Regions from separate parts of the Homo sapiens genome. Here region 1 is linked to region 2. The links come from fine-mapping of genetic effects on gene expression. Tissue or cell type: whole blood. Region 2 holds a variant in brackets; the other region holds the start of a gene. All regions are shown on one strand. Distances are from middle to middle.

Region 1 (2,621 bases), 66 kb before region 2:
AATCTGATGGGAAGAGTCCTGTCTGGGAAGCTCCCTGTCTGATGGGAGACAGCCCTGTCCACATGGAGGTCTCAGTCTGACGGAGGAAACAGCCTGGCCAGCCAGGCCCAGGCCGACAGGGGAGACACAGTCCCTGCCCAAGGAGCTTCCAAGCTAAGGGCGGAACCACAGCCAAGCCCAGGGAGCTCCCAGGCTAAGGGCGGAGACTGTCCCAGCCCAGGGAGCTCCCAGTCAAAAGGGGGAGACACAGCACTGCCCTTACAAAGCTACCAGCCTCACGGAGAAGGCGCAGTCCCTGTCCACAGAGACACAGCCTTGCCCCAGTTACTGCCCACCTGCAAGAGATCCACATTTCTGCCCTCCAGAGCTCCCAAACTGATGGGGGAGAGAGACATCATCCCCCAGCTCTGGGAGTTTCCAGTCTGATGGAGGAGACAGAGCCTGCTTCGGTAACTCTCACTCTGCGGGGGAAGACTCAGCCCTATCCAGGGAGCTCCCACACTTTCAATGGGGAGGCCCACCCAGGTACTGGAACTCCCAGCTCATGTGTGGTCGGGGCTTGGGCAGGGAGAGGAACATCAGGCGGAGGAAGCCCAAAGCCAGCGGCAGGGGCTCTGCAAAGGGGGCGGGAAGGTTCCATTATGGAGCAACCATGGGAGCAGAGCTTTGAAAAGCCTGGATCGCCCCCTTCCTCCTGATTCTCCCTGCGGCCTCTGGGGTCGCCTCCCTCCGAGCCCCCTCCCTGGGGCCCCGCCCCCAACCCCCTCCATCCCAGCCCCTTTGCCGGTCACCCGACACAACCACCTGCATCCAGGCCCCCAACTGAGCCCCCTCCATCCAAGCCATCTCCCCCGGGCCCCGCCCAGGCCCTGCATCCGAGCCCCCTCCCCTGGGGCCCCGCCCCCAACCCCTCACCCCGCGAACGCCCTCCTCCCTCCGCCTCCCTCGTCCCTACTCCCCACCCTCCGGCGCGCTCCCCACTCCGGCTCCAGGCCTCACCTTGACCCGCTCCAGCTGCTTGAGGACGTGCTCCCGCCGCCGCCCTGCTGCCCGCTTCCCTCCGGCTCCCCCGGGGCCGCCGCCGCCGCTCCCAGCCCCGCTGTTCCGCTCCGATTTCGAGCTGGGCGCCATTTTCACCCCCTCCCTCCACTTCCGGAGCAACCGGCCCCTTCGCCCCACCCCTGCCGCCTCCTCATTGGTCCTTTTTCGGGACAGCGGCCCGCCGGTTGGGCGAAAGCCCGCACTCGCGCTATGCCTGTCCATCAAAGCCATCTCGACTCTTGATTGGTAGCGACAGTAACAGCCCCCGCGGCCCGTTGCCGTATTCCCGCCCCGCCTTAAGGACGTACCACTCGGAGGTCCCGTTTGTTCGCCCTGCCCAGATAACTTTGATCTGATAGGTGAATATCTCTGTCTGTCTCAACGGCGTCACGCCCCCTGTGGCTGGCGGGTTTCCATGGAGACCACAGGCGGTCCAGGCCCTTGGGCGGGGCGACGGGAGCCTGTGGTCCACCAAGGCTCGAGAATCCTCAGCCCCGGGCTGCCCGCGCCCGGTCCAGGTGGGCAAAGGCCTGACGAGCATACTTGGGCGGCAGAGCCAGGCCGAGGAAAGAGATTTACAAAAAAGGAAAAAACGATGGGATTCGATGAAAGCTTGTTTCCGATGGGCGGGTTGGTGGGATGATGGTGGTGATAATGATAGCATCAATCATGGATCGCTCCACATGTGACAGACACGGTTCTGAGCTTAAACAGTTCGATGTGGCAGGGCCCTGTTGTGCCAATTATGCAGATCATAGCAATAAAAATAATTGTTGAAGGTCCGCTCCGTGCATCATATTCGTATACATTACCTCATTTATTTTATTTTTTTAGACAGAGTCTCACTTTGTCACCCAGGCTGGAGTGCAGTGGCGTGATCACGGTTCACTGCAGCCTCGACCCCGGGCTCAGATGATCCTCTCACCTCAGCCTCTCATGTAGCTAGGACTACAGGCGTGCGCCACCACGCCTGCCTAATTTTTTGTATTTTTAGTAGAGACGAGGTTTCACTATGTTGGCCAGGCTGGTTGCGAACTCCTGACCTCAGGTGATCCGCCCGCCTAGGCCTCCCAAAGTGCTGGAATTACGGGCATAAGCCACCGCGCCCGGCCTAATTTTTTGTATTTTTTGTAGGGACGGAGTTTCACCAAGTTGTCCAGGCTGGTCTCCAACACCTGGGCTCAAGTGATCCTCCCACCTCTGCTTCCCAAAGTGTTGGGAGGACAGGTGTGAGCCCCCACCCCTGGCCAGCCCATTTAATCCTCTGAACAATCTAGAAGATAGTTTTTTTTTATTGTCTTCATTAAAAAAATTTTTTTTGTAGAGATGGGGTCTCACTATGTTGCCCAGGCTGCTCGAAAACTCCTGACCTCAAGGGATCATCCCGTCTTGGCCTCCCAAAGTGCTGGGATTACAGGCATAAACCACTGTGCCCAGCTGATTTCAAGGGTTTTAGGAGTTATGTACTAGAAAACCTAAGACCAAAATATGGTTTTTTAAAAATATATCACAACACAATATCACAACATATCTTTTTTTTTTTTTTTTTTTTTGAGATGGAGTTTTGCTCTTGTTGCCCA
Region 2 (2,754 bases):
GAAGGCTGGGAAATGGTTAAGGTGTTTGGGGCCAGGTGTGCCTAGGTGGCATCCAGCAGGTGAAGCCCCTAGCCCTCCTAAACGGGCTGCCAAACTGCAAGCTTGGAAAAAGACCCTGAAATCCAGACTTGGGGGGATCCAGACAGACAGCCAGGCTGGTCAAACCCGACCAGCATTAGCAGCCTTTCCCCAGCCAGGGGAGGAGGCACCGCCCTGACAGCACTGCCAGGGCCTGGGCGTGTTTGGCTTTGACACGAGGCGTTCCCCAGCAAGTTGAGGCGACCCAGGCAAGGAACACATTCCCGTGGGAAGGTTCCGGGTGGCTCCCGGCAGGAAGGCCGAGGCCCGTGTCTCCCAACATGGGCAGGGGCACGGGGAACAGCAAAGATGGATCGAGCGGGCCGTCTCAGCACCTCCTCCTGACCTCACTGTGGCCACACACTGTGCTAGAGGAGGGGACTCAGAGGTGACACAGCAGAGACAGAGCTTTCAAACCTCAAACCAAGGTCTCGTCATGGGAGGGTTTGGTGTTACTTTCTCATAGATCCTTTGCACTCACTCTTGGACTGATGGAGCTTCTGCAATCTGCATATGGAGTCATTTAATTTAAATTTTAGAGACAGGGCCTTGCTCTGTCGCCCAGGCTGGAGTGCAGTGGCACAATCACAGCTCACTGCAGCCTCAACCTCCCGGGCTCAAGCAGTTGATCCTCCTGCCTCAGCCTCCCAAGTAGCTAGGACCACAGGTGCGTGCCACCATGCCCAGCTAATTTTTTTTTTTTTTTTTTGTACAGACAGGGTCTCGCCGTGTTGCCCAGGCTGGTCTGGAACTCTTGGCCTCAAACAATCCTCCCACCTCAGCCTTCCAAAGTGCTGGGATTACAGGTGTCCCCAGCCTGGCTCATTGCCTCTTTTCTGAGGGACATCATAGGTCACCACTGTAACGGAGCTTAACATTTTCCATGGAAATTAAACCACCATTGACGCTTAGAAGCTTAAGCGCCGTGGAGTTACCAGGCTTTCCCCTGTATTCACTGGGAGTTTTCCCCTCGTGTTATATTTGCAAACTCCTTTCCTAACAGGATGTCTGTGGCACATTCAGCCAAGGTAGACGACTCCACTTCACCGCAGTTGCCCCCGCTTTGTGTTTTCTCTGTACCCGTAAAGACAGTGAGGGGCATGCAGGAGACTGCAGTGGTGTCAGGGCCAGAGATCATGGCACAGTG[G/A]TGCCCCCACTGCCCAGATCAGCCTGTGGGAGGCCCGGGCCTAGGAGCGGACACCAGGGTTGGCTGTGGCCTTTCTCTTTCCAAGGGGAAAGGACGGGCGCAGCCCAGGCTGGTAGCCTCGGGTCTACCCATCGTGGATTTCCTCCCCGTTACCGCTCTTCCTCTGCAGGAGTCCCAGCCAGCCCCGATGTGACCTGCTGTGGCCGCGGTGAAGCCAAAAGCATCAGCGTGACTTCTGGTTCCCCTGTGCAGAGCTTGCCCGACCCAGGCCTCGACCACTCACACCTTGTGCTCTCTTTCCAGCTCTTTCCTTCGGGGAACAAGCCGGGCCCTTGCTGGCCGGGCCCCAGCTCACATGCCAATGGAGACCCTGTTGCAGTGGCCAAGGCCCAGCCGAGGTAGGTGTGGCGTGGGTGAGAAGTGGCTCCAGGACCCTCACAAATTTTACCAAGGAGGGTGACAGATGGAGGAGACAGACCCCAGTTCTCCCTCCCTGGGCCTCGACTTCCTCAGTCCAGCAGGGGAGCTGAGCCCTGTCTTTCAAACTGTATACATTCCCCTGCTCCCCGAAAGCAGAGAATGGGCGACAGTGACCAGTGATCGACACCCAACCCAGCATCTCCCCACCCAGAAGCTCCCCAGGAGCCCTGGGACAGTGCCTCCGGCTCTGTGGGCTCTTTCTCTCTGGGAAGAGGGGCCAAAGCTTCCTCCTGAGTCCCTGGGAAGGGGAGGGGACCCAGACAGGGCTCAGAACTGTTGGCTGAGACCATCTTGGAGCTGTTCCTAGCTCTGGCACCAGGCGGGCACCCGAGTGAGTCTAACCTGCCCTCACCTCCTCCCCTCCCCACTTGGCTCTTGCCCTAGGCGAACCACCTCCTCCCTCCCACAGGCCACCAGTGAGCCGTCCTCCAGCCTGCTGTGTGTGAGGAGGGCACCCTCTCCCCCGCACCATGCCCGGGGTCTCCGCAGCCTGTCCCCTCCTCCCGTGCCCTCCCACAGCCCTCCTCGAAGCCAGCGCTGGGTGGCTGCCCTCTCTGTTACCTGGCACTTGAACCTGCCTCTCTGCAGAGGCGGCAGCTTATCAATTATTTATGGCCAAGTTTCTGTTTCTGTCTGGCAGGGGTGGAGGAGGGTTTGGGACTCAGCCCTTGGCTGTGTGTGGCCCCCACACCCTCCTCCTCCTTCTCCTCCCCTAGCAGAGGGCGGCTCTGTCCCTGCCTCCTGCCGTCACTCCCTGTGACTTGTACCTGCTGTGCCACTGGCCACCTCCCTTAGCCACACACACAACCTGCACGTGGACCAGAGGCAGTTCATCAGAGCGGCCCGCTGTGGTTTGAGTGAAGAGCCGGGAGGGTTCACATCTGAATCTCCGACAGCGTCCCAGGGCCAATGCAGCTCCCCTCCCCACCGTCCTGGATGTCTGGAAGCTCCCAGAGGGCCCCGGGTCTGGTTTGGTGGCTTGAGGCTGAATGACACACACAAGAGGCTAAGACCCAGGGGCTGCCAGACACCTCAGGGTGACCAAGGCA

The links. PIP is the estimated chance that this variant, and not a neighbour inherited with it, causes the effect.
Region 1: it holds the start of DCAF15, and the variant in region 2 is fine-mapped to the expression of DCAF15 in whole blood (TOPMed, PIP above 0.99).

What each region holds. Positions count from the first base shown.
Region 1 is chr19:13,951,023-13,953,643 of GRCh38, reverse strand. It overlaps DCAF15 (DDB1 and CUL4 associated factor 15), which reads right to left and starts at 1,135. Exons shown (of 13, transcript NM_138353.4): 1 at 1,000-1,135. The coding sequence starts at 1,131. It also overlaps a transcript of PODNL1 not described here. RefSeq lists a silencer at 913-1,052 and an enhancer at 1,713-1,762.
Region 2 is chr19:13,884,830-13,887,583 of GRCh38, reverse strand. It overlaps BRME1 (break repair meiotic recombinase recruitment factor 1), which reads left to right. Exons shown (of 9, transcript NM_001345843.2): 7 at 1,529-1,623. Among named protein-coding and RNA genes, the nearest start is that of NANOS3, 9.1 kb to the right of the region's middle. The variant G/A (reference allele first, on the strand shown) is at 1,226.